7 linked regions of the Homo sapiens genome follow. The protein of the gene in region 5 purifies or fractionates together with the protein of the main gene of each other region. This does not show direct contact. Each region holds a gene or a part of one and is shown on either strand. Other genes may lie near its edges.

Region 1 (3,865 bases), on a different chromosome or scaffold from region 5:
TCATTCCAGTAAATATTTCACTAAAGCATCACTTTTATCGTAACTTTTAGGAAGGAAATCTGTCCTGGATATGACAAAAAGGCTGCAATAAGGAAAAGGAGCCAGATGGTAACCACCTAAGTCCAGTAACAATGTGATCTTGAGACTTTTTATGCTGAAATATAACCCCACTCATTTATGTACTCTAAAATGTTGTGTAGTCATGACTTAGTGCCACCACTAAATGAATATGGAATGTGTTAATGTGCTCTGAGGGTACTGCCATGTATTTTATTATATAATTATAAACCCACTGATATACCTGAATAAACCACATCCACCTCTAAAGCATTATTTCTCTCCATATGACCCATTTAAAACTGCAAATGGCTTAATCTAGTGTCTCAATACACTTAAGACTCAAAAGGAGACTAAAGATGAACAAGATGAACATTTTGATAGCACTTTCTACAAAAAATGCTTTATTTAAAAATATGATCTTTTTAAAAAGGAGACTTTTATACACACTTACTTTAGAAACAGTCAAAAACACAACAGAATCAATCCAGATTTAGAAATGATGATTTGTAACATACAATATTGGTATGCTGAACAAGACAGTTTAAATGTATGATTCTTTTTGTCCCTTCACATTTCAATAATTCACATTTGTTAAAACTAGTGGTTGGGACTAAAGAAAAGGTCATATCTGAATCCTTTCCCCTTCAGAAATCTGTCACCCTTCTGGGCAGTTACAGAAATGGCAGCAGCTAGGCAATGTTTGTATTTCTTTGGGTGCCTCTGTGTCAAAAAATATATCTCCGCTTTTATTCTTTTTCTATGAAATTTATATTTATGTGGCTATAGGGCCTGGTCGTATGTCCCACGCCTTTTAAAATCTAAATTTCTAAAAACAGACACTCCGTAAGGGCAAGGAGCATACACTGCTATGACCTCACTGGACTCAGAGCTTAATGCTCTTAGGTTATCAGCAAGAGACATGATTTTGATCTTCCAGTTAGCACTCCAAGCTGCTATCAACCAACCTTTTTCAGCACGGTAGTGAAATATTTCAAACCATATTCAAACATCTAATATAGATTTATAATAAAACAGGAAAAATGGCTTGCCAAATTAAAGTGCTATGAGCTATTACATTCAAGAGGTTATCTTGATTTTATTTTTTGAGGTGGAGTCTCGCTCTGTCGCCCAGGCTGGAGTGCAGTGGCATGATCTCAGCTCACTGCAACCTCCACTCCTGGGTTCAAGCAATTCTCCCTGCCTCAGCCTTCTGAGTAGCTGGAATTACAGGCGCCAGCCACCAAGCCTGGCTAATTTTTGTGTTTTTAGTAGAGACGGGGTTTCACTATGTTGGCCAGGCTGGTCTTGAACTCCTGACCTCAGGTGATTCACCTGCCTCAGCCTCCCAAAGTGCTGGGATTACAGGCATGTGCCACCGCGTCCGGACTATCTTGATTTTATAATCTGATGTTTTCAAAAACTATTTTTCACCATGGCCACTGCTTCTCAAACTGGGGAACCCTAGCCATCTTCCAGGAGTGTCATTTTTTTTTTCAGACATAGAGGTTTAAAAATTTTTTAATCTTAAAAAGTTCTGTTGTATATATTCACAGGTAAAATAAGAATAATTTTAAAGATAAAACATATGACTTCAAAGAAATTACAAGTTGACATCTTGGACTCTACCCCTCGTACTTTATCTCCTATGAGGAGGATTTCAGTAATCACAGCTGCGAAGCAATGACCTAGGAGATCCTGATTTCTCAAAGCGTAGCCAGGTCTTTACTGACAGTGAATGTAAATACAATTCAAAGTCTTGGTGCATTCTCCTGAGCTCCATCTTCAGATATAATGTAATTCTCTGATTAAATATATATAGTCCTGTCTATACTGATCAGGAATTAAGTCAACAAAAGAACTCTGGACTGATTTTGATTTTTCACTGTTTATAATTAGAGGAATGCTACAGTTAAAGATTACTGCTTTACAACTAAAAATATACAACATATATCATCAAAGGGAGTGGAACTCATGAAGCCAAAAGATTAAAACTTGACCCAGTGAAAATAATAGGGAGAGTAACTGTGGGTGATTTTATCCTTCTTCCAAATTTACATTAAAATATATTATCCCTATTCTTTACTGCCCTTTTGGTTGAAGAGGTAAATACATGCATTTTTCTGAATAATTAATTATAACACCTCCTCTAGAATCCCAAATCCACTAGGGATTCTTTCTTGACCCCAAAGAGATGCTTTCAGTATGTCATGAGTATAAACTCAAACTGCTTGCCAATTATAACTACTTGTCAAATAGAAAGTCAATAGCCACTTTCTGTATAAATAACATTTATAAAAAACAAAATGAAGTTGCAAATGAAATTATGTCAAATTTACAGTTTCTTTTTTTAAACAAAGGGTCAATGTCATCAACATTATCTGTAAATCAAGTTATCATCAGATACATTTAATAATTAAATATAAATATGACAATGGATCAAAAATGATCCCAGCTAGTTTAAGGATTAATCTCATTAATCCCACAATTTAATGAGACCATCCCAACCACATGTTATGACCTTAGAAGTTTCATGAGGATGCCACACTGCACCTATACACACTTTATCATGAGCTTTAAATCGACTGTAGAGTTTTGTGGTCTTCCAGTCCCAAATGTTTAATTTTCCATTTCCATCTCCTGAAATCACATAACTATAATGGGAAGAAAGATAAATTCAAATTATTAAAATACCTTAAATTGGTAAGGCGAATGAGGAATAGGGACGTTATCTTTTCACGTTAACATTAAAAAAAAAATCCAATGCAAATATACAATACTCAGAATAAGATGGTAGAACATGAAGCAGTCTATAATTTGAAATTCTATTAAAAAAACCTCCCAACCAATCTAAGAGTAGAAAATTATTTTTAACTGGGAAGACTGGGAGTCCCAGGAGCCACAGTGAATGAGGTTACACAATCAGTCTCTAGATAGTCAGAAACAGAGACTGGAGAACCAATTCCACATATAGCTAGGGAACACCTTTAGATCTATTCTATCACAGTAGGCTCTAACACTTTCATAATTACTTTTTGGCTTTAATATCTTTTGAATACATCTAAGACTGAATCAGAGGTAGGCCCAATTACTAGGCTAAACAAACAAAGTTACTGGGATTTCTAAATTACTTCTGCCTATACATTTTAACTAAGAACCATGCTGTAGGCTTCACAAATCCAGTGTGACCTAGAAATATTCAAAAGCTGGATTTGAGGTTTCAGCACAGACAAGCTGTAGTGAAGCTGTAACTGCAACACTGTAATACACAATTAATTCTTCTGGTGTTCATTCAATCATAGCAATACAGTGATTATAGCACTTCTAGTCTTGCTTAGAAAAGCAGAGAAAATAAGGCATTGGTTATATAGACAGGGATTTATTAGGTGGCTAAAGGGCATAAGCCTAAGTAATAGAAGGGAATATACTGAAGCAAGAACCTAAAAAAAGCAAAATGTAATTTTCCTAATTTGTTCTTGCCTTTATATCCAGCATTTTGACAATTTTGACAGATCATCGAGTTCTCATAAAAACATATTATGTGAGAGTGATGTGTCAAGTGTTATTTGTACAACAACAGTTTATATAATCATATTTGAATACGAGAATGGATTAGAAGATTTAAACTTACCTCATGTCTGGTGAAAAGTCCACCTGACAAGCATAGCCTGCTACCATATGGCCCTTAAAAATTTTTTTCTTATTTAATCTAAATCTGTTCTGTGCTCCAAAAATTAAGATTTGGTTGTCCATTGATTGGCATGCTAGCCATTTTCCTGTAAATTCAATAAATGAGGTATTTTAGAGG
Region 2 (3,865 bases), on a different chromosome or scaffold from region 5:
CCTCAAACTCTTGGGCTCAGTCAAACCTCCTACCTCTGCCTCCCAAGTAGCTGGGAATATAGGTACGAGCCACCATGCCCAGCCACTGCTACTTTTAACATAATTCAAACAGCAAGAGATTTATCGTGTCCACAAAATTTAAAATGTTTCCTAAAATATTTATCATTCAGGGAAAACATGAGAGGATTACCTTGTCTTTTGACTGTCCTTGTCGAGCAATTGCATCATATTTAATTTTTCCTTCAGAATCCACCTGAATGGCCAGCGCATTCGACATTTTTTTCTTTCGTCCCATATCCAGTGGATACTGGGCCACATGGATCTCTGGAAAAGCACCTCCATCTCCAAAATCCTACACATTAGAAGTAGTTAAATAAAATAGTTAATCATCATTTGACATTCAAGATATATTCATTCATTCAACAAGTAATTGTTGAGTCCTTAGTATGCTAGATGCTAGAGATACAGCAGAGTTCCCTGCCTCTTGTGGAGTTTACATTCTAGTAGGCAAAGATATAAAAAACACATTCTTTGGCTTGTGATAAGTACCATGAAGGTAATATAAAAGAAAAAGACTGGGAAAAGGGGCTACTTTTGATAGGGTGGTTGGGGACAGCCTTTGTGAAGAAGTAACATGTGAGCTAAAGCCTGAATGATTAGAAAGCAGTCATGGGAAGACACACACACACACACACACACACACACACACACACACACCACACACACACACACACAAAGCATTTTCTAGATGGATCAAATAGCCAATGCAAAGGCCCTGCTGCAAGAATGAGCTTGGTATATTTTAGGAAATGAGAATTCAGTGGGGCTAACAGCTTAATAAGGACAGCAGAGCTTGAGGCACAAGTTACATGAGTAAAAAACACCAGATCACAAAGGGACTTACATGCTACAGCAAGAAAATGTGGATTTCATATATGCAGGACGAAACTAAGTAAAATGGCTAGGACAAGGCAAAATATATGTGTATATATTTTAGCATATAAATACATATTTTAGTGAGGAACAGGTAAAGCTATACTTGGGGCAGAAATATAAAAGATTTTTTCTTGGAATCAGATTTTATTAACATATTATTTATTCATTGTTATGTGAGAAGCAAATGAATACAATAGGAAGGATCCAGAAATGAGTTTACTACATTTCTACTAGTGATTATACATAATTATTTAGGAGAGAGAACTGAGACTGCTAAAGTAGAACAAGCTAAATAAAGTTTGCTGATGAAATGTAGTATTTTAAAAAGGTTTATCAAATAAACATGAGGATCAAGTATAATTTTTAAGTAGTTAAAAAAAATTCAGTAGTATTTGCTTAGTACACTTTAAACATGATTCACACATGTATTATCTCATTTAATCCTTGTAACTCTTTAACATCATTTTAAATGGAAACATTCAGGCTTAGAAAAATTAAGCGGTGTTCCTGAGATCTCATAGGTATTATATGCAGCACCTGAACCCAGATCTTTTGAGACTCCGAAAAGCTTTGTATTTTCTACTACTATGAAATACCTTTCTTTTAGCTCAAAACAGCCAAATGAGTACTATTAAGAAATAATAGAAAACACAAATTAAAATTAATCATTTAGAGGGGGTTTGATGGAAAAAAAAGAAAATATTCACTTTTACAAGACCTCTTTAAGTAATACTCCGTTAGATCTAAGATATATGAGTTCCTAAGTACAATATGCTTATTTGCTAAAGAGATGTTTGAAGTTTTTGAAAACCAAGAGAATAAAGCTGAGAGACATTTTCTTGTAAATGAGAAAGAGTTAAAGCATTCCTAAGATAAGTGCTTCCCGTACCCAAGCCATCAATCTGACACATGCTTGGATTTGCTAGAGTTTTTCAACTATAATAAGTACTTCAGAACTGTAGCTGTAGCATTATGTGGTCATTAAGCTTGCCAGAAAATCATAGCTTTTATTTTGAAAACTAGAACAAAATGCCTTCTTCCACAGAACATTCACTCCCCTCAAGCAGCATCCATAGCATTTCCAGATTAGCTAGCCATTTCAACTTGATTTTCAAATAAGTTGTTCTGTTTCACCAGGATATATGAAACCACTGATAGCCAAGTAAGAATCTAAAAATCTAATAGCAACCAAGTATCGTAATGCTGAAATGCATGGATGAGATTTACATTCTATGTAAGATGATGCCTGTCACCCTCATTGTGCAATGTACTGACAGACCAAACAATATTTATAATGCCTCAACAGAGACACTCAACTGCTCTATTAGATGATGCCAATCACTACTTTTTTGCCCCAGGTAAGACTCCTTGATAATCTTTCATCTTCCTCTGCCTCCCATAAATAACACTATCAGAGAGAACAAAAGCAACAAAAATCCCTTAATAATTGCAATATGACTGGCCTTCACACACCAGCATTCATAAGGACCAGAGGAAAGCTGACAAAAAAGCAACAAAAAGACCTACATGTGGGTTTTTTGGAATACATAGGACAAGATATGATCTAGTTGGGTGTTCCTCTTATAAACTCTAATAAAGAGTGTGGGGCAGGCGCGGTGGCTCACACCTGTAATCCCAGCACTTTAGGAGGCCGAGGCAGGTGGATCACCTGAAGTCAGGAGTTCAAGACCAGCCTAGCAAACATGGTGAAACCCTGTCTGTACTAAAAATACAAAAAATTAGCTGGATGTGGTGGCACGTGCCTGTAATCCTGGCTACTTGGGAGGCTGAGGCAGGAGAATCGCTTGAACCCAGGAGGCGAAGGCTGCAGTGAGCCAAGATCGCACCACTGCACTCCAGCCTGGGAAACGGAGCGAGATTCCATCCCAAAAATAAAAAAAATAAAAATTAATTAATTAATGTAAAGGATCCTGAGTAATTAGAATAGGTGCTGCCAAGGAAGCTTGTTCTTTTTATTTTTATTTTTTATTTTTTTTGAGATGGAGTTTTGCTGTTGTTGCCCAGGCTGGAGTGCAATGGTGCGATCTTGGCTCACCACAACCTCTGCCTCCCAGGTTCAAGCAATTCTCCCGCCTCAGCCTCCGGAGTAGCTGGGATTACAGGCATGCGCCACCACACCTGGCTAATTTTGTATTTTTAGTAGAGACAGGGTTGCTCCATGTTGGTCAGGCTGGTCTCGAACTCCTGGCCTCAGGTGATCTGCCCGCCTTGGCCTCCCAAAGTGCTGGGATTACAGGTGTGAGCCACTGCGCCCGACCGGAAGCTTGTTATTTGGCAACAAGCTAGAGATAGAAAGAGCTATTCCAGATGGTTCCTTCTCCCTCATTGCCTTCAAATCAACCAAATTTTGTCTTATACCCGCAAAAATATATTTAATCTATATATCAGATATATATTAACATTCTCAAATTAAAGGTAAGAAAACAGGTGAAGAGAAAGAAATCAGCAAAGGAAGTGCTACTGGAGTTTTCCCTGAAGGAAAGTTGTCTCTTCAGGGTTATGTGGTATTATCGGAGGGGAGGAGGAGGAGGAGGAGCCCAAATATGAAAACCACTTTCATCTCTCTTATCTTTTACTTTCCCATTATTTTCCGTAATTCCTGAATTTATAAAATATTAGTTTTCTTGTAAATATTTAATAGTTTGATATAGGAATAGACAAATGGTACAGTTCTCTAGTGACCACAAAGCAGTGATAGATAATAAGCAAAAAGAAAATGATACATCTTCTGAGGGAAATATACATCTTGAGAGCACATAACCAGAATTTCTATCACACTGACATTCATAATCAGAGGTTCTAACATTTAAATTTATGTTATAGTGTGCTATAATAAATTTCAGCACAATTTAACAAATCTAAACTTAAGATCTATATGTACCTCTAATAACCGAGGTATCCAGCCTTT
Region 3 (3,865 bases), on a different chromosome or scaffold from region 5:
TCCCTGCAAAGCAAAAGTTACATGAAATCTACAAAGATTTTATAAATGTACTTTTAAAAAAAATTAAAGAGAAAAACGAGGTTTTGCTAACCCTCCTTACATTTGGAATGAAACCTTGTTTTAAAAAAAACACAAAATACTGGCATCCAAAAAATCTAAATTTGGTAATGATGAATTTTAAAAACACAAAAAAACCTCTCTACAATACTGAACAATCAAATGTAAGCACTTCCATGTAAGTATCTATTGATGTGGTAAAGGGAAAAGAAAAATGAGTAGAACTTTTAAGAAAAAAAACCTGTGTATTGGCCGGACACGGTGGCTCACGCCTGTAATCCCAGCACTTTGGGAGACCAAGGCAGGCGGATCACGAGGTCAGGAAATCGAGACCATCCTGGCTTACAAGGTGAAACACCGCAGGCGCAGTGGTGGGCGCCTGTAGTCCCAGTTACTCAGGAGGCTGAGACAGGAGAATGGCGTGAACCTGGGAGGCGGAGCTTGCAGTGAGCTGAGATCATGCCACTGCGCTCCAGCCTGGGCTACAAAGTGAGACTACGTCTCAAAAAAAAAAAAAAAAAAAAAAAAAAAAAACAAAAAACCTGTGTATTACGGAAATTTTCAAACATGAAATTAGAGATTAATATTAATTCTTAAGTCTCTACTATCCACATCCAGTTTCAACAATTATCAACTCATGGGTAGTTCTGTTCTTCCCTCCCTCCCCTGCCCGGGACTGAATTGTTTAGAAGTAAATCCCAAAAATGACATCATCTTATCGGTAAATATTTCAGTACACATCTCTAAAGTACTTTTTCTCAACTTTAATTACTGCCTCCCCAGCAAGGAGCCTTTGACTAAATTTTCTCCCGCACATGAAATTTTCACACCACAGATACACTGTGCACAACACGAGCAAGGTTTTTTCACCCCCAAAAAGACCAATATTCGCTCTGTTTGGGGGGATATAGCCTCCATTACGAATGCATACTCTAGAACATAAAGATCTCTAAAGTAGTAAACAAACCATAATACCATTCTCATGCCTACATTTTAATGGCAAATATCCAGTCGACAACTAGGTTTTTAATGTTTTACATGTTATTTCAAGGACATTGCCAATACCCAACATGTACACAACAGAAACAAAAGCAATCAGCATCCAGACTACCTATGCCTGACGCCTTCACAATCAACCTGAGCCCTCAATAAGTTGCACGCAGCAGCTTAGGTATTCTGTGGAGCTTCTTCCCAAAGTGCTGCTTCCAAACTACCTCCACCAAACCAGTAGGAATGCTACTTAAAAATTCCCACTCCTGGGGCTCCAGCCTGAACTACAGTTTACCAGAATATCAGGAGTAAGGCTACAAAATTAGCACCTTAAACAAGTTCTCACTCAATCTTAGACCTCCACTACTTAAGTTTGAAAAGCAGTGTCACTGCTGGTTCAGAGTACTGTTTTTTTGTTTGTTTGTTTGTTTGTTTTTGAATCGGAGTCTTGCTCTGTCGCTCAGGCTGGAGCGCAGTGGCGCGATCTCGGCTCACTGCAAGCTCTGCCTCCCGGGTTCACGCCATTCTCCTGCCTCAGCCTCCCGAGTAGCTGGCAGTACAGGTGCCCACCACTGCGCCCGCGGTGTTTCACCTTGTTAGCCAGGATGGTCTGGATCTCCTGACCTCGTGATCTGCCTGCCTTGGCCTCCCAAAATGCTGGGATTACAGGCGTGAGCCACTGCGCCCAGCCCCCGCAGAGTACTGTTTTTCTTCATTCCTACCCCACGAAATGTTCCTATTCCCAGGAGCCAGGAGTAGCAAAGTGGCCTTAAACTCCTCATTCCTCTCCCCCTACAAATGCTTAACACCATTTACCCAATACAAAGGCAGAAGAGCAAGCTGAAACCAAATTCCTTGTCATCCTAATGAGGAACCCACTCTGGAGGCCTCTGCTCTCATGCTCTGGGCTTGTCTTTACCTTTGCCTGAGTGAGAGCTGCCTTCTTCACCTGAAGCTGAGACTGCAGAAGTTTGAAGTTTTTGGACCAGCCTTCTGTTTTTGAGTCACTGGTCTCCACTCCTAGGTCATCGTACAGGGACATCTTTTCTTCAGTTTAATGCTGAAAGGCAAAAGGGGTGGGGATTAAAGAATGCACAATTCAATAAAGGCTTTTCATGTTAAAATAAGTATCATGAAATTTTAGAGGTAAAAGGTCCAGGACCTTTCAGCAACAGAGGCCCAGGCTCCTGGTACCATTAATGTAGGGCTATTCCTGATACATGAAGCTAGACCATGGATTATTTTTAAAATAAGCCTCTAAAATTCATTTTTCCATCTATAAGATCATGCAGTCAAGTGATCCATGAGTGAAATCCTTCAATGCTAGGGCACATAATGAGGTAAGAATTGGAACATTATTAATTACATATATCCAATTTTTAAAAAATTCTATTTATGTCAGTGCCAAAAAGTAGAAGCTTTACAAAAACACCAATTAGCAGGTTGATGTAGCACAATTAGCTACCCTTTTATAAAGAAAAAATTTAAACGTACTCCTAGGGAAAAAAATGACAGAAATGATCTCTTAGATGTGATTTTGTCAATTACAATTATCAAGGGGGGAGTAGACTGGTTACATCTTAAATACTCTGATTTCCTCATATCACACCAAGTGGAAATCTGTCATCTTTAATGATAGTGATTACAAAGAGACAATCAACAATCTGCATGTGAACGAGCAACACACAGCTTCCGTGCAGAACAGAGGAACACGTGGAAACAAAAACCGAGTCAGCAGGCGCAAAGCATGACATGCAATGCAGCATCGGCAGCAGGTCCCATGAAAGCCCAGCACTGCACAGACATGGATGCTGGGGTTTAGGGAATCAATCTGCCCAAGGCCACAGCGGAAGCCCCTTCCAACCCAGCCAGGCCAACTCCAGAGCCCTCGCCAGTGAACCCCAACTGCCACTTTTTAAAAAAAAAATCAACATTCTGAAACCCACCAACATAGCTTACTTCTTCAAATAAGAAATCAATCTCACAGACAGAAAGAGAACTTAATTTAAACAGAAACCCACAAATTGCAAGTAAATGCTTAGCACAGTAGTTCCCAGTTTATGGACAAATAAGTCTGTCAGTTCCCAGGGGGCCCATAAAGCATTTTCCCATGGAAACCGTGTTATTGAAAAGCCTAATTTGCTTGTGTTCTGTGGCTCAGGAGAGGAGGAAAATATTTAACACATACCCTCCTTAGGTCTGATTCGGCAAGCATTTCTCTTGAAGGTACTCTTACTTCTCAGCTCCCCCATTACAGGGATTCTAAGACCCTGCCGCCCCAACACCTTCGCTGATGTTGGTACCACACTGTGTGGAGTGGGGGACGGAGTGCACACCAACTTCTGTTCCCTCAGAAGAACTGCCCTGGTCTTAAGTACAGTAACTCCCTGCCTGAAGTCAGCACCCCAGAAAACTGTCACCACTTTTTAGTTTCTTCCATTCCTTCATACGTGAACCCTCAAATTAACTAAAACCTCTCCATTTTGATTTTTAAATGAAAGGTCCCCGCAAGGCCGTAGAGAAGCAGGGAAAGCAGACTGTCCAGGGGTATTGATGGCCGACTGCTCAAATGAATCACATAAGAATGAAGGGATGGTCAGGCACGGTGGCTCACGCCTGTAATCCCAGCACTTTGGGAGGCATAGGTGGGCGGATCACTTGAGGTCAGGAGTTAAGAGATCAGCCTGGCCAACACGGTGAAAACCTGTCTCTATTAAAAATACAAAAATTAGCTGGGCGTGGTGGTGGGTGCCTGTAATCCCAGCTACTCCGGAGGGTGAGGCATGATAATCGCCTGAACCCGGGAGATGGATGTTGC
Region 4 (4,453 bases), on a different chromosome or scaffold from region 5:
TGAGGGGCAGGGGCCAGATCATAAAGAGCTGTGAATGCTATGGTAATGAGTTTGGGTTTTACTCTGTAGGTCAAAGGGAGCAACAGAGGAATTCTGAGCAAGTGTGTGCACATCTGTGTCTTAAAAGACCTACACTGTGAAAGTAGATCAAAGTTAGGGAAAACTGGAGTCAAAGTGGCAAGAGATTACTACAACAAATTAAGTGTAAAATAATGAGGCAATGAGAGACTGAACTAGGGCACTGGCCATGGGGAGAGATGCCACTGATACAAATAAGACTTGGTATTAAGAGTGGGGTGATAGGGAGCAGTCAAACATAGCTCTCAGATTCATGAATTAAGCACCTGAAAAAAAAGAACACTAGAAGAAGAATGGATTTGAAGGAGAGGGATAGAAAAATGACGCTATCTATTAAGCAGCAGCATCAAGGATCTGGAATATCAACAGCTACGGACTAGAGATACAGACCTAGGAGGCATCAGTATATACCCAATTAAAACTATAGATATATGCAGAAAAGAGAAACAAGCACAAAAATCTAGGCACAAGTAGACATGAGTCTATCACGGTAGCTGAGATTAAGAAGTCAGAGAGAGGGGTGGAGGATCTAGAAAAGCAAAAGCAAAAAGAGACAAGAATTTCAAACAGGAGGACACAACTAGTTTCAAGTATATCAGAGGTCAAACTAGATAAGGAGCAGAAGCGTCCCCGAGATTTGGCAATTAGGTCACCACTTTGAGGTGGAGTCAGAGAAGAGAATGGAACTAAAGATTAAAGAAATAAAAACTGGCAAGTAGAGTCTACTTGTCAGAAAAACTTAAGAAATGGATTCAGGGTGGTAGATGTTAGAGAGCATTTTGTATGTTTTTATAATAGAATGTCTGAAGGAAAGGAAAACTCTGAAACTGTTACTGTTGAGGAACAAAGGGCAGCAGGGTGAGTGGTAACAGAGATGCTCTACCAAGCTCTTCCCTCCCTTTCCCAACAAAGCACACCTACCTGGATGGGGCATCCCACCCGGTGGGAATGGGTGAGGATGTGAGTGTCCATGACCAGGATGTCCTGCCCCTGGGGTTCCTGCCGATGGGGGGCCATGTCCTGCAGCCCCAGGAGGCATAGGTGGTGGGGGCATGGCTGGGGGTATCCCAGGTGGGAGGGCTCCAGGAGGTGGCACTGGGGGTGGGAAGGAGCCAGGAGGAGGCATGCCTATAGAGGAAATGGAAAAAGGAAGAGTTAATGGTAGTGAGGAGAAAATGTCTTTAAAGAGCCTGTCCTGATCTGGCCTCTCCAGGCAGGGTGAGCTCTTTCCCCCTCCTCCCAGTGCTCTAAAATCAAAAGCAATGTTAGAAAAGTCAACCAACTTCACCCTCCTAAAGAAACCCAACAACTTTCTTCTTCACCACTACCATCACCCCTCAGTCCTCTTCCCATCAACTCACTGACTCAATGTCCCCTGTCCCCCTTTCAGACTTGTTTTCTTCTTCCTCCTGACCCTCTCCCCCAACCTTAAGACAAACATATTTTAACCAAAAGCTTTACCTGGTGGAGGAAGCCCAGACCCCAATGATGATACCACAGGATTGGGAGCAGAGGGTGGAGGAGGTGCATCTGCAAACAGCTGATGAGGGCGATCAGCCTGGGAGAGCGGGTTCTGAGCTGCCAGAAGTCGTTCGGCTGCTGAGCCATGGCGCTCACCCTTGGAGTCCTTCTTGAAGGCATAAGATACGGTGATAGGACGGTTACAGAGGTACTGCCCATTCATGGCTTCAATTGCTGCATCCGAAGCATCAAATGAAGCAAAATTAATAAAGGCATAACCTTTGGAGTTGCCTGTGTCAGGGTCCCGCATAATTTTGGGGGTTTGTAAGATGACCCCAAAGGCGCTGAAAGTATCATAAAGCAACTTCTCATCAATCTCAGGGTCCAGGTTCCCAATGAAAATGTTGGCCCCTACATCCAGGTTTTTGTTGTGAGCTGATGCTTTGTTCACCCGTATTGGCTTCCCATAGAGTTTGATCATGTTCATGATCTTAATGGCATAGTCAGCATCTTCCTCACTCAAGAATTCCACAAAGCCATAGCCTGGAAAAGTGGAGAAGAGGAGGTTAACAACGTAAGTAAAGAGACTGAAAATGGGGTAAAATTCATCTACCCTCTAATCACAAAGAACAAGAAAGAAACAACATCACTTTACTTAAGAATGGTTCCAGAAATAAACTGAAGAGAGGCTTAAAAGAAAAAAATCTTTAGGTTGCTCATGTTATTCCAAAACAGTTGTGAATACTGCTGGGACCCTCCGGGAGCAATTCGCCCCTTGTCATGTACTCACCTTGGTGCTGGCCAGTGACTCTATCCTTTGGCATGTGGGTGTTGACTACTGGTCCAGCCTGGAGAAACAGTTCCCACAGCAGCGGTTCACTAACCTTCTCATCCAGGCCCCCCACGTACACAGTGGCATCTTGAAGGGAGGGAGCAAAAAGAGCAAGCGTGAGAGTGTAACGGGAAGGAAGGAAGTGATGGAAACATGAAGATGGAACCCAACCAGGGGAACTGGGGACCGCGGTAGGGGACAGGAGCAAAAAAAAAAGTTTAAACCCTTAAACTTCTCTCTTCCCAGGACTTCGGGAATCCTCTGAAGTCTAATTTAGTATTGTGAGTGGGTTTTTTTGATTTTTTGAGTGAGAAGTCAGCAGGGGACCGGACTTAAGTATCACACCCAGAGGCCTCAGCCAGCACCCGGCCACCCCGCCCCCAACAGGCAGAGGGCCGGTCTCGCGCCCTCTGGGGAAGGGAGGAGTCCAGTCTCCCACCCCTGCAGAGACACTGCTGGCTGTAGTCGGGGCCTCCTAGCCACGCTGAGCCCATTCCAGACTTTCCCCCTCCAGTTACCCTGATTCCGCTCGGAGATCGGCCCGGCAGCCATGGCGAAAGAGATCCCGCCGTCTCCCAGCAGCGGTTCCGCCTTCTGACCTCAGCACGACTTCCACTTCCGGGGCGAAGACGGACGTAGCGGTGGGCGGGGCCGCGGAAGAGGAGGTGCCTGGAAGCGGCTGCAGCCATCTTAGGAGCCTCCGAAACTTAACCTGGGTCGGGCGGTAGAGTCCTCGGCTCGCGTCCTGAGGTGCCGCTGCTAGTTGTCTTAGCGAGGAGGGCGGAACGGAAACGCTCAGGCCCTCTTAATGCACTGCTAGACTTGAAAGAATCACACTGCTCTCAAAAGTGTAAATTCGAAAGCTAAAAGAACAAAAATTTCAGTTTTAATATATTTTGTGGACAGTGATTCTTCTTCTGTTGTCCAGAGAAGGATGTGCTGAAGAGTTCCCCCCAACCCGAGGACTTGGGGGCTTTCAGGCGCAGAGGGAGCCTTCCCTCTCGCCTGCAGCCTTCTTGCAGATTTGGCCTCACAACCCTGATTTGGGCTGGAGGTATTTGGTTTTCCCTCAGGGGAGGAGACTGCGAAATGTCTGAGCTTAGAGTGACGTCTGCGCTCACCTCGTCCTAATTGCATGGGGAGGGTGAGGGCTGCTCCGCGTTGGTGTGTGACCACAGCTGAGGGGTGGATGGGATCGGAGCTCTAGAGTCTGGATCTCTAGAACACTCTGGCCCCATCTGCCTCTAAATGGGAGACACACACAAGAGAACCCTTTCCCCAAATTGCACTTGAATTTTGCAGAGCCTCACCAAACCCAGTTCCCCTATTTCCTTAGCAATAATATGGTGGATGCCTTCCTCTCTTGGGTCATACACCCCTTTTACCCACCACTTTCCTACCTAGGAGAATCCTTTATTCAAACACAAGAAACAATGCCAGCAATGTGTATAAATACTATGCTTTAATGAGCCCCTTAAATAGAAATTCCACTACAAAAATACAGAGGAGATAGGGTGTTTCCTGTATCCGCCTCATTCCCATAGAAAACTATAAGGGAAGAAATAGAACTTGGAATTAAAGCAGCAGCAAGGCGAGGTGAGAATGCGATTTCTAGGCCATCTTGTTGGGACTGATGAACAGCATCTCTGATCTCATGATTTAACATCTGGTTATCCAGAAGGGATGGGATTGGCCTAAAAAAACCGATCAATTTCTGGATTGTTTTTGTTTCTTAATCCTTCAAATGACAAGAAGCAAAAATATTTGTAGAAACTAAGCAAGACAAGAGTTGGAGCAGTTAACACCACTATCTGCAGCAGAAACTCAGACCTTCTTAGTGAACTTAAGGGCTGAAGTGTGAAAGCTGAGGCTGCAAGTGCAGATACAAAAAAAAAAAAAAAAGATTAGACAGAACCCTCCTCTACCCCAGATCCCCCTCTGCCCTGCCTTTGAGAATGCCAGCAATTTCAGTGGGATTGAGAATGGTATGTGGATCTCTTTTCTTGGAGTGATCCTCAGGAGATATTCTTGGTGTCCATTTCCGTAATAACTCCTGAAGATGGGATAGCTCATCCTGGAGGC
Region 5 (4,604 bases):
CTCTACTAAAAATACAAAAAATTAGCCGGGCGTGATGGCGGACGCCTGTAGTCCCAGCTACTTGGGAGGCTGAGGCAGGAGAATGCTGTGAACCCAGGAGGCGGAGCTTGCAGTGAGCCGAGATCGCGCCACTGCACTCCAGCCTGGGGGACAGAGCAAGACTCCGTCTCAAAAAAAAAACAACAAACAAAACCCTGAGTTTTCGGGTGGATTGTTATACAGCATTATTGCAGCAAGAGCTAACTGATAAAGTGCCAAGCTTTTCACAAAAGTATATGCAACAAGATGGGATTAAGACTGTCGTGGCTAAGGGGGATCAGAGAGATGGCAATGAAACAGTAGTGTTCTTCAAATATGAGTAACTTACGCCCCTTTCAACAAATGTTCTTGTAGACTCTCCATATGACCTTTATGTTAACTATGTACATATATAAAACTAAAGGCTGGGTATGGTGGCTCAGGCCTGTACTCCCTTGGGAGGCCAAGGCGGGAGGATCACTTGAAGCCAGAGTTGGAGACCAGCCTGGGGGCGGGGGAGAAAAAAACAAAAAACATAGCCAGGTTTGGTGGGACACACCAATCAATTTCAAAAATGGAATCATTTCAGTTGTCCTATCAGAAGCCGGAGCGACAGGTAAGTCTGCACTAACAGAAGGGCTATGTGGGAGTGGAAAAGGCGGCCTTCCTGGCATGTGTCATGACACTGCAGGAGCCAGACGCTAATCCAGCCCAGGAAGCCTACCGAGAAAACGCTGCCCTCCTGCATTTCCAATTTCAACGTGTCCTTAGACCTCACTGCAAATGCACCATGATGACACACAACTTGGTAGCATAGTGAGTGGAGTTTATTTTTATAATTTGTAGAAAATTGACATTTAGATTTCAAAACTTATATTACAAAATTATCAGCAGCAGTCTTAAGCATTTCAACAATGCTGATAGATTCCACTTTGCTAACACAAACAAGGCTATTATACCATGTTCGAAAAGCAAGACTTGTTCCAAGAGGGCCTATTATTATACATCTGCCTCACTGCTCAGGACCCGTTTGTGACTGTGTCTTCTTCCATCTCTTCTTCACCATCATCAGTGGGCCCTAAAGAAAACCACCAAAGCAAAAGTAGTATCAATTTTAGAGAATCCATTCCCTTAGCATGCAAGTGTTTGTTCTGTGGCCACTGTTTGTTACACACTGAAGTAGGTACAAAAAGATCAAAAGCAGCACCTGCCTTTGAGGAGCTTATCGTCCAGGGACGGTCTAGTCTGTCTTTGGCAGGTACTGGAAGGGATGCTCAATTTCAAAGGAAAAGGGTCACAAAGATTTCAAAATTGTTGCCTCCCATTGTAGTTGATAATAATTCATTTTTGGTGAAGGTAAAGCCTATACTCATGTGCTTTTCATGGCACTACCGTAGGCAAAGAAACCGGAAATACTCAAAAACATCTGGGCACCTACTACATGCCATATACTGGCAACAGTTCAATGACTTTATTGTCTCTAAATTAGGGAAATATGCCAACAACTACCAAAAAATGTTACATTTGTTCAACAATTTATGGCAGGTATTTTGCTCAATGTATTCCAGGGGGAAAAAAAAGTTGTAACTCCTTCAATTGTTTGGGAAACAATTGTTATTGTTGACTTAATGTCTGACTTAACATCAGTCAGCTGAATTATTGTATTGGTTTCATCATTCCATCCTGTGCAATACGGCATTTTGATTGACGGGCATGAAGAAAATCTGGCCACACAGGCACACAGTTAGAAAAGGGAGGAAGATTTTAACAGCCTGTGCAGATAATGGTGGATGCTCTTTTTAGATACTATGCTAAAACTTGACAAATGGTAGCTTCCTCAAGGTTAGATGGCAGTGTAAAAGTCTGAAACCTTATCAATGAACTTTTCATACTCTTACTTGGTTTATCTTGTACTTTGAACAAATCTTTTACCCGTACATGATTTCGTATCATTTGGAAAACTGTGGTTCACCGACTTTTGCAGATCTTCCAAACGTTGAGCCATGTAATTACACATCAAAAATGTCACACCCATTAATTCACATGCACATAACATTACTATTGAGTTCCCCAGAAAAGTCTTAAAGTACTGGGAAGCTGGCAGGTTACGGCAGTGGATACAAGTTTTCTAAATTTTAATTTTTGCTTTAAACCTTGAATTTTCAATTGTTTTCCCTGAAGTGACAGGCTCACTTCATCATGTTTGAGAAGACAGGTAGCTGCCTCTCAACTGAAACAACTGCACCAGTGCATGGAGATAACCACCTAACTCAAGAATGCAGACATGTGCACCCCCTTTCTGTCACCCAGAATATCAAAGAGACGTGTGCCCGAGGAGTGATATTTAATTATCTTTACTGCTGCATCCAGGACACTCTTAAGTGAAACTGGTATGCACGCTACTGGGAGTGCAGAGCAGGGAAGAATGTAACAGCTATTATTTAGGCTGCTGCCTTGACTCCTACTGAGGTGCCCGCAGTTCTACCCACTATTGCTCCATCAGTGCAAATGTTCATACTAAAGCAAGTAACACCTTGGTGTTATTAGATGAAAACAGTCTTCGGCCAGGCGCGGTGGCTCACGCCTGTAATCCCAGCACTTTGGGAGGCCAAGGCGGGTGGATCATGAGGTCAGGAGATCGAGACCATCCTGGCTAACATGTGTTTTTAGTAGAAACCCTGTCTCTACTAAAAAAAAAAAAAATACAAAAAGTTAGCCATGCTTGGTGGCGGGCGCCTGTAGTCCCAGCTACTCGGGAGGCTGGGGCAGAAGAATGGCATGAACCCAGGAGGCGGAGCTTGCAGTGAGGTGAGATTGCACCACTGCCCTATAGCCTGGGCGACAGAGCGAGACTCCGTCTCAAAACAACAACAACAACAAAATCAGTCTTCACCTTACAGACTCCCAGAGGCCCACAAACCATACAGTAGAGAATTACTGGTCTTAAAAAATTTCTTTTTGGCTGGGCACGGGGCTCACGCCTGTAATCCCAGCACTTTGGGAAGACGAGGCAGGTGGATCACGGGGTCAAGAGATTGAGACCATCCTGGCCAACATGGTGAAACGCTGTCTCTACTAAAAATTAATTAGCCGGGCACGGTAGCAGGTGCCTGTAATCCCAGCTACTTGGGAGGCTGAGGCAGGAGAATCGCTTGAACCCGGGAGGCGGAGGTTGGCGTGAGCCGAGATCGCGCCACTGCACTCCAGCCTGGGCAAAAAGAGCAAAACTCCGACTCAAAAAGGAAAAAAATGTCTTTTTAATTTTTAGCTCCCAGCTCAAACATTATTTCCCTAGGAAACTTCCCCAAGACGGCAGTCTGAGTGGCTGTCCCCAGTTACATTCATATCAAAACTTGTAAGACGTATTTCAGTACTTTTTATCTTATATCCCTAGTGCCCCACATGCAGCCTAGCATAAAGCAGGCATTCAGATGTCAGAACAGTTACCACTTATCAAAAACTCGCTAATGTTGAGCCTTGTGCTGTGTTCAGTCTCTCAGCCTCTCGGCAACCTTTTGAGGTTTGCTACTATTGTTATCTCAGATTTAAAGATGAGGAAAGACTTGAAGAAACTTGTCCAAAGGCAGAGCTGGTGAAGCTGAGATTTGGGCCTCGGACTGCTTGGCTCTAGAGCCTGTGTTCCTAACTACTGAGGTATCATGCACACACGCAAATATATATAGGTAAAAGTCCACATGGCTATCGCTAGTGTTCGGTGCACTCCATGGCTGAAGTAATTCTAGCTTCAACTTTTACATAAAACCCCCCACAGTGCTGTAACTTAACTTTCTTCATGAAATACCTTTTTTTTTTTTTTGAGCTGCAGTTTTGCTCGTTGCCCAGGCTGGAGTACAAAAGTGCGATCTCGGCTCACCACAACCTCCACCTCCCGGGTTCAAGCGATTCTCCTGCCTCAGCCTCCCGAGTAGCTGGGATTACAGGCGCGCACCACCACCCCCGGCTAATTTTGTATTTTTAGTAGAGATGGGGTTTCTCCATGTTGGTCAGGCTGGTCTCGAACTCCTGACCTCAGGTGATCCGCCCGCCTCAGGCTCCCAAAGTGCTGGGATTACAGGCGTGAGCCACTGCACCCAACCCATCAAATACTTTATCTTCAAAGAGCATTTAAAGAGATTTCATATATTAGATTTGATGTAAGGAGGCACTACTCTGGCATTCCAGAGTCATGGCATCTAAATGGTTGTGAGTTACACTCTGAGTGTAACATTAATTTGAACATACAAAGAACACCATTTGTTCACCTGATCTGCGTTCTCTGCCAGGGATCTGACCAGACTGCAGCAACCCCTTCAGCCTCTCCACTTCAGCCAGAGTTGAAGCATTTGCTATGGCATTCTGGAGGACAGAGGGCAATGGAGATGGATGATTAACTTCAACCAAGTATCAGCTACCCAGAAAACTAAGTGTCAATCACCTACAGAAATTCACAGCAACTTCTCCATCAGGAACATTAAATACTTTGGTGTAGGGGGAAGAATGTTATTGGCCCACAAAAATAAAACTAGAAGCCAAACCACAAATTTCTAAAATTGGTGAAGAGATGCAGGCCTTCTTATAAATAATCA
Region 6 (3,865 bases), on a different chromosome or scaffold from region 5:
TACTGGGATTACAGGCATGAGCCACCGCACCTGGCCAATTTCAGTTATTTTAAACCGTACTATTTTAAATGTGTACACACAAAAACTGTAAGTCTAGAACACGTTAAAATGGGCCAAATTGACCACACTTACCTTCAATTTCTTCTGAAATAGTATTTATGATAGAAAAGGAACAAAAATGATAACTACCCAGAGGAACAAAGAAAAGCAGAGAAAACACAGTAGATAAAAGATTTTGGGCCAGGCACCGTGGCTCACGCCTGTAATCCCAGCACTTAGGGAGGCCCAGGCAGGCGGATCATGAGGTCAGGAGATCGAGACCGCTTGGCTAACACGGTGAAACCCCGTCTCTACTAAAAATACAAAAAATTAGCCGGGCGTGGTTGCAGGCGCCTGTGGTCCCAGCTACTGGAGAGGCAGAGGCAGGACAATGGTGTGAACCCGGGAAGCGGAGCTTGCAGTGAGCCGAGATCGCGCCACTGCACTCCAGCCTGGGCGACAGAGTGAGAGTCCATCTCAAAAAAAGATTTCGGCTGGGCGCGGTGGTTCCTGCCTGTAATCCCAGCACTTTGGAAGGCCGAGGCGGGTGGATCACTTGAGGTCAGGGGTATGAGACCAGCCTGACCAACAGGATGAAACCCCACCTCTACTAAAAATACAAAATTAGCTGGGTGTGGTGGCACACACCTATAATCCCAGCTACTTGGGAGGCTGAAACAGAAGAATCGCTTGAACCCAGGAGGCAGAGGTTGCAGTGAGCTGAGATCCTGCCACTGCACTCCAGCTTGGCTAACAAGAGCGAAACTCCATCTCAAAAAAAAAAAAAAAAATTTTTTTCAACAAAATTTTAAATAGAAAGTAGACTGGGAACTGTAACATTTAGTAAAGGAAGAATAACTTCTGAAAAATCTAAGATTCAGAAGCGTGGAGTAAGATGATATGAGGCGGGGGGCTTTCAATCATCAATTCCCCGACAGGTAGGTAGGTAGTAAAAAAAAAAATGTAGAATAACCCTAACGACATTAAAGCAAAACATCCTCAGATTTGAAAATACAGCCAGCCTTCAATATCCATGGGTTGCACATCCATGGATTTAACCAACTGAGGATCAAAAATGTAGTTTAGGCCTATGATGGTTGTATCTGTACTAAACACATACAGACTTTTTCTTGTCATTAACGCCTAAACAATACAGTATAACTATCTACAGAGCATTTACATTATACTAGGTATTACAAGTAATCTAGAGATGATTTAAAGGGTACAAAAGGATGTGCACTGAAACACTACTACCATTTTATGAAAAGGGACTTAAGAATCTGTAGATTTTGGTACCCACAGGGGGTTTTTTTAAAGTGGAAAGCAGCATGAGATAAAGGACCGAGAGAGAGATTAAATCATTGTTTTTCAAGCTATGGATTACAATCATATATATATATATATATTTTTTTTTTTTGAGACAAAGTCTCACTCTGTAGCCCAGGCTGGAGTGCAGTGGCGTGATCTTGGCTCACAGCAACCTCCACCTCCCAGGTTCAAGTGATTCGTCTGCCTCAACCTCCCGAGTAACTGGGACTAAAGGCACGCACCACCACGCCTGATTTTTTTTGCATTTTTAGTAGAGAGGGGGTTTCGCCATGTTGACCAGGCTGGTCTGGAACTCCTGGCCTCAGGTGATCTGCCCACCTTGGCCTCCCAAAGTGCTGGGATTACAGGTGTGAGCCACCCTGCCCGACCACATCGATATTTGTTGTTTGGTTTTTTTTTTTTTTGAGACAGTGGCTCTGTCACCCAGGCTGGAGTGCAGTGGTGAGATCTCGGCTCACTGCAACCTCCGCCTACTGGGTTCAAGCGATTCTCCTGCCTCAGCCTCCCGAGTAGCTGGGATTACAGGCACCCGCCACCATGCCCAGCTAAGTTTTATATTTTTAGTAGAGATGAGGCTTCACCATGTTGGCCAGGCTGGTCTTGAACTCCTGACCTCGTGATCCACCCGCCTTGGCCTCCCAAAGTGCTGGGATTATAGGCGTGAGCCACTGCGTCCGGTTGCTCAATGTTTTTAATAGCAACACCAAGAATTACTATACATACTATAGGAAATATTAAACAACAAAGACACTTGTGTTGTTTGCAAATAATATCTATATTATGAATAGTGTGGATTAGGATTAGCATTCACAAAAATGTTTATAATCCTTCAAACTTACCAGCTTCCCTTTTCTTAGATTTCACCTTAGGTTCAACATCCACAAGTAGTGTATCCAGAGGTAAACTGTCTGGTAGAATAAAATACCGAATGTTATTTCCTCGAATACTCAGCGTTTCCAGCTGTACAGGTTCTCTGTTCTTCAGGGTCATTTTCACAGCTTTAAGATGTGTATTCATGCTGACATCCACACCTAAAGAGGAAAATAATTGTGCAGTTATTAGTATGATACAAGTTAAGGCAACTAATTAATCTACTGAGCCACAGTAAATACTGGACTACAAAAGATTACTGTTCTTCTACAAAGTGCAAGTTTTCTATGACACAATTTAGCACATGTGCAACTGGTAAATGGGGGAATGTCAGCAGTGTTTCCTTCCTAGAGATTTTTCCTAGCACACTAATGTTTTGCTTACAGAAGTGAATGCAGCAAGCCATGGAAGAACCCTGACTGGGCTTTAGGCTCACTACTGATGTGACAGGTATTTCTTTCATGTTTCTCCCACTGTCTTTGTAACTTCCTCATAATCCCCATTCCACCAAACTATCCTCACCTTTGTTTCTGCTTCTCTCTGTATATAAGAATTGTTACTGCTTTTGTTAAGATGGATCATGAGGTCAGGAGTTCGAGACCAACCTGGCCAACATGATGAAACCCCGTCTCTACCAAAAATATAAAAAATTAGCTGGGTGTGGTGGCACGCACCCATAACCCCAGCTACTTGGGAGGCTGAGGCAGGAGAATTGCTTCAACCCGGACCCGGGAGGCAGAGGTTGTAGTGACCTGAGATTGTGCCACTGCACTCCAGCCTGGGTAACAGAGTGAGAATCCGTCTAAAAAAAAAATTTACCCGGGCATGGTGGCAGGCACCTGTAGTCCCAGCTACTTGGGAGGCTGAGACAGGAGAATTGCTTGACCCCAGGCGGCGGATGTTGCAGTGAGCTGAGATCGTGCCACTGCACTCCGGCCCAGGTGACAGAGCAAAACTGTTTAAAAAAAAAAAAAAAAAATTACATAATTCAGACAAAAAAAATAAGGATTTGTACTACAATAATGTTCATTAAGCAATAAAAAAATAAACTCTGGCTAGGTAAAAGAGAAGAAAAAAAATGTTATAAAAGCAGTCCAACCTCCGTACCTGTGATTGTTCCATGGACCTGTGTTCCGTTCTTCAATTCAATGGTTACAGTTTCATGACTCAATTTCATCAAAAATCTATAAATAGGAATAAAACCATTTTTACCTGTAACACTTTAAAATCACATTTATTAAGGTGAAAGGGTGAAACAACTCGATGTTGAAAATTTGCTAGATGCTATCTGCATCAATTCCTATCAATAATCTGCATAACAATTTCAGCTTTCCTGAATTATATCCTCAACCTTTATGAAGGAACACAACAATACTAACATAAACTGTCATTTGGACGTTTCTAATTCTCAAACCTGAAATCCAGACATACAAGATCTTAGACTCATTATAAACCATGAAAAAGAAATAGGCCAGGCGTGGTGGCTCACGCCTATAATTCCAGCAGTTTGGGAGGCCAAGGCGGGCGGATCACGAGGTCAGGAGATCGAGATCATCCTGGCTAACATGGTGAAACCCCGTCTCTACTAAAAAATACAAAAAATTAGCTGGGCATGGTGGCGGGCACC
Region 7 (3,865 bases), on a different chromosome or scaffold from region 5:
GCCACAGGGTTTCCCTGAACCCAGTCATTCCTTAGCTCCTTTTCCAGTTCTGCCATTTCCAAAACCATCTAGGCTATCGCTCATTTCTTTTAATAAAATTTACTTTAAAAAAAATCTATTTAAGATGGAGAATACATATTACTACTTCAAATAAAAAAAAATCAGTATGCCTTTACCAACAAAAGGTAGTCAAAAGTGAACATAATGAAAACAAAGTAATACTGTCAAAGTTTAGCTGGAAGTTTGCTGAGACTAATTCTCTTAGTTCAAAGGGGTAGCAAGTGCTGGAGAGGTGTAAAAGGTACATGAGCACCAAACCTAGACTTTGTCCTCTGAGTAACAAGAAAGACTGAAAGACATGAAAATTTAGTTGATTTGAGCCTGGGCAACAAGAAAAGACCCTAACTCTACAAAAAAATATAAAAATAAATTAACTGGGCATGGTGGTGTGTGCCTCTAGTCCCAGCTACTCAGGAGGCTGAGGTGGGAGGATCACTTGTGCCCAGGAGTCTGAGGCTGCAGTGGGCTAGAATCGTGTCACCGTATTCCAGCCTGGAAAACAGAGCAAGACCCTGTCTTTAAGAAACAAACAAACAAACAAAAAACAAATAGTTGGTTTAACGCCTTGTCCAAGTACTCCCTAAAACCACCCCCATTATACTGGTGAGGCCCACACAGGAAACATCCTCAGCAAAAACCCAGACTCGTACAGCTGTATAAGGCACCTTCAGATGACAGGGGTGTGGTAAGATCAGCAGGGAGGTCTCCAACCACTGTCTGTACCTGGGATGGTTCCCCAGATATGCCCCATGTCCCCAGCAAGCCTTCAAAACCTCAGGATAATGAAAAAATGTCCCTATAATGATGTTTAGGGAACCCTGATTTTTAAAATGTCCCAACAGTAATATTCAAAGTGCCACACTTATATACAACACCTGTGTCAGTCAGAAAGTACACGGACCTTAAAGACACAAGATATGAACACGTTCAAGTCTCAGGTTCACTGCTGACTCACTCTGACCCACAGCAAGTTACCAAACTACTCTTTGCTTCCATTTCCCCATGTGTAAAATGCAGCTAACACCAGTTTCCCTTTCTACCTTGAAACATTATTGAGGAGATGCCAAAGTGTTTTTGTTTTATAGACAGGGTCTCACTCTGTCACCCAGGCTGGAGTGCAGTGGTACAATCTCAGCTCACTGCAACCTCCACCTCCTGGGCTCAAGGGATCCTCCCACCTCAGCCTCCTGAGTAGCTGGGACTACAGGCATATACCACCATGCTCGGCTAATTTTTTTTTTACATTTTGTAGAGACGGGGTTTCACCATGTTGCTCAGGCTGGTCTCAAACTCCTGCGCTTAAGCGCCTTGGCCTCCCAAAGTGATAGGATTATAGGCGTGAGCCACTGAACCCAGCCCTCAAAGTCTTTTCAAATCGTACAGTGGCCTGCAAATGCAAGGGGCTAGGAGGGGTTGTTCCATAAACATTGTCTGTGGGGCCTTCCATTGCTCCTCTGGCGAGAACCTTGTACTTAGAACTGCCCCAAACACACCAAGGCATGGCCCCGGCATCTGGTGCCAGCTAGCCAGCTCCACTCTTCAGACTTTCATATCCCTGGCCTGTGAGTTTAAGAGGGGGTGGGAGCCCGGCACAGTGGCGCACACTTGTAGTCCCAGCTACTCAGGAGGCTGAGGCGAGAGGATCACTTGAGCCCAGAAGATCATACCCAAGCCTGGGCAACAAAATGAAATTTCACCTCTGAAAACAAAAATTTTTTAAATTTTTTTTAAGACAGATGGCAGGAGACAGGGTACAGGCAGTGCTGTGCCCCAGATCAACCACCACAGCAATTATGTGCCACACTAGTGATCGACACCCAGGCTGGCTCCTCAGCAAGTCGTGGTCATACCCTGCCGTGTAACTAACACCATGAGGTCTCAATTTGACAGTATATTAGTCTAACTGGAACCTCATGCTTTGGAAAAAAAATTCTCCCTACTCCTTAAATAATGCAAACCACACATAAGAATGAAGGTGAATGCACACTTAAATCCTGCTAAACTAGGCCACTATACCCAGCAAATGCCTCGGGCAGACAAAGGGCTCCTGGAAAAAGGGGCCCTGGTTGTCTCCTGTACCACTGCCTAAGCCATAACTTTACCCCATCTGGGAACAATCTGAAAAATAAAACAATGAGAAGGCTTGGCATGTTCATTCCAAGCTATTCAGTTGCTTTAAATTAGCTTAACGTTAATTTTAGAATCATACTCTCCACCAGAAGGAATAGATTTCAACAGAAAAAGACATGATTCTGACTCAACCCAGCTGGTGGGACTTTTTAAGGGTAATTTCCACTTCAGTTTCTTGACAGGAACATGCAGGAAATGAAAAGGCCTAACCTAGCGAAAAAACTTTTGGAAAACCGCTCAGTTGTGCATTTCTACTGCATGCTCCATAAATATACGTGAACCCAGGAGAAGTGAAGCACAGAGTTCTGCATGCCTGCTTTAACTCGGATATTGGTCTCTTTGTTGCAATGTAAACGATAAGTTCACAGATTTTATTTATTTATTTACTTTTGAGGCGGAGTCTCGCTCCGTCACCCAGGTGGGAGTGCAGTGGCACAATCTTGGCTCACTGCAACCTCTGCCTCCCGGGTTCAAACGATTCTTCTGCCTCAGCCTCCCAAGTAGCTGGGACTACAGGCGCCCGCCACCACACCTGGCTAATTTTTTGTATTTTTAGTAGAGACGAGGTTTCACTATGCTGGCCAGGCTGGTCTTGAACTCCTGACCTCAGGTGATCTGCCCACCTCAGTTTCCCAAAGTGCTGGGATTACAGGTGTAAGCCACCACACTGGCTCACAGATTTTAGAAATGCCTACAAAAGCAATCACCATAGCTAAAAATCAATCTAGGGATGTGCATGGTTTTGGATTTTTTTCTTTCTTTTTTTTTTTTTTTTTGAGATAGGGTCTTGCTCTATCGCCCCAGGCTGGAGTACGCTGGCATGATCATACCCTTGACCTCTCAGGCTCAAGTGATCCTCCCAAGTGGCTAGAAATACAGATATGCGCCACCATGCCCAGCTAATTTTTTTATTTTTTGTAGAGACAGGGGTCTCACTATATTGCCTACACTGGTGTCCAAGTCCTGGGTTCAAGCGATCCTCCCACCCTGGCCTCCCAAAGTGCTGGGATTACAGGCGTGAGCCACCTAACCTGGTCATATATATTTAAAGGGACCTTGGATATCCTCTTATTTCTTTAGCAGCAGAGGATGGCACAAAATTATTGGAAAGCTACTTGGCAAAATGTTTAAGAAATCTTTTAAGGATGCTCTTTTAGCCAATAATGAGCCACACAGAATTTTCTTCTAAGGAAACGATCTAAAAGGGAAAGAAAATGCTCAGAGATTTCCCCACAGCTTAATTTGCCAAAATGAAATGTTGGGAACAGGCCAGGTGCGGTGGTCACTGCCTGTAATCCCAGCCACCTTGTGGTGGCTGAGACATGAGGATCACTTGAGGCCAGGAGTTCAAGACCAACCTGAGCAACACAGAAAGACCCCATCTATACAAAAAAACTAAAAAAAATAAAAAAAATAAAAAAAAAATTAGCTGGGTGTGGTGGCAGGCACCTGTAGTCCTAGCTACTCAGGAAGCTGAGGTGGGAGGATAACTTGAGCCCAGGAGTTCAAGGCTGCAGTGAGCTGTTATCATGCCACTGCACTCCTGCCTGCGTGTCAGAACGAGACTCTGTCTCTAAAAAAGAAATGTTGGAAACCTCCTCCTCTAAGGAAAATACAGAAATGGTGGCCAAGTCAAGGAAAGCCTTTCACCTCTACATGGTGCATCCCCTTAATA

What was found.
Region 1: the proteins of SNRPA1 (region 5) and CDC40 purify together in Homo sapiens (affinity purification with mass spectrometry; 5 studies listed by BioGRID and IntAct, with this or other methods). This does not show direct contact.
Region 2: the proteins of SNRPA1 (region 5) and SNW1 purify together in Homo sapiens (affinity purification with mass spectrometry; 6 studies listed by BioGRID and IntAct, with this or other methods). This does not show direct contact.
Region 3: the proteins of SNRPA1 (region 5) and RBM17 purify together in Homo sapiens (affinity purification with mass spectrometry; 5 studies listed by BioGRID and IntAct, with this or other methods). This does not show direct contact.
Region 4: the proteins of SNRPA1 (region 5) and SF3B4 purify together in Homo sapiens (affinity purification with mass spectrometry; 5 studies listed by BioGRID and IntAct, with this or other methods). This does not show direct contact.
Region 6: the proteins of SNRPA1 (region 5) and SNRPD1 purify together in Homo sapiens (affinity purification with mass spectrometry; 6 studies listed by BioGRID and IntAct, with this or other methods). This does not show direct contact.
Region 7: the proteins of SNRPA1 (region 5) and SF3A1 purify together in Homo sapiens (affinity purification with mass spectrometry; 8 studies listed by BioGRID and IntAct, with this or other methods). This does not show direct contact.

The regions. Positions count from the first base shown.
Region 1 is NC_000006.12:110,228,800-110,232,664, reverse strand, and holds the end of CDC40 (pre-mRNA-processing factor 17), read right to left. Parts: intron 3,834-3,865; coding exon 3,689-3,833; intron 2,712-3,688; coding exon 2,534-2,711; 3' UTR 433-2,533; downstream 1-432. UniProt on the Homo sapiens protein: Required for pre-mRNA splicing as component of the activated spliceosome. Plays an important role in embryonic brain development; this function does not require proline isomerization.
Region 2 is NC_000014.9:77,751,129-77,754,993, forward strand, and holds part of SNW1 (SNW domain-containing protein 1), read right to left. Parts: coding exon 3,839-3,865; intron 353-3,838; coding exon 191-352; intron 1-190. UniProt on the Homo sapiens protein: Involved in pre-mRNA splicing as component of the spliceosome. As a component of the minor spliceosome, involved in the splicing of U12-type introns in pre-mRNAs.
Region 3 is NC_000010.11:6,095,290-6,099,154, reverse strand, and holds part of RBM17 (splicing factor 45), read right to left. Parts: intron 2,108-3,865; 5' UTR 2,090-2,107; coding exon 1,967-2,089; intron 1-1,966. UniProt on the Homo sapiens protein: Splice factor that binds to the single-stranded 3'AG at the exon/intron border and promotes its utilization in the second catalytic step. Involved in the regulation of alternative splicing and the utilization of cryptic splice sites.
Region 4 is NC_000001.11:149,924,837-149,929,289, forward strand, and holds the start of SF3B4 (splicing factor 3B subunit 4), read right to left. Parts: upstream 2,968-4,453; 5' UTR 2,924-2,967; coding exon 2,890-2,923; intron 2,459-2,889; coding exon 2,330-2,458; intron 2,083-2,329; coding exon 1,540-2,082; intron 1,207-1,539; coding exon 1,000-1,206; intron 1-999. Other genes in the region: MTMR11 (myotubularin-related protein 11), read right to left, coding at 4,293-4,453. UniProt on the Homo sapiens protein: Component of the 17S U2 SnRNP complex of the spliceosome, a large ribonucleoprotein complex that removes introns from transcribed pre-mRNAs.
Region 5 is NC_000015.10:101,280,687-101,285,290, forward strand, and holds the end of SNRPA1 (U2 small nuclear ribonucleoprotein A'), read right to left. Parts: intron 4,375-4,604; coding exon 4,281-4,374; intron 1,097-4,280; coding exon 1,038-1,096; 3' UTR 824-1,037; downstream 1-823. UniProt on the Homo sapiens protein: Involved in pre-mRNA splicing as component of the spliceosome. Associated with sn-RNP U2, where it contributes to the binding of stem loop IV of U2 snRNA.
Region 6 is NC_000018.10:21,622,282-21,626,146, reverse strand, and holds part of SNRPD1 (small nuclear ribonucleoprotein Sm D1), read right to left. Parts: intron 3,423-3,865; coding exon 3,346-3,422; intron 2,400-3,345; coding exon 2,208-2,399; intron 1-2,207. UniProt on the Homo sapiens protein: Plays a role in pre-mRNA splicing as a core component of the spliceosomal U1, U2, U4 and U5 small nuclear ribonucleoproteins (snRNPs), the building blocks of the spliceosome.
Region 7 is NC_000022.11:30,346,718-30,350,582, forward strand, and holds part of SF3A1 (splicing factor 3A subunit 1), read right to left. Parts: intron 1-3,865. UniProt on the Homo sapiens protein: Component of the 17S U2 SnRNP complex of the spliceosome, a large ribonucleoprotein complex that removes introns from transcribed pre-mRNAs.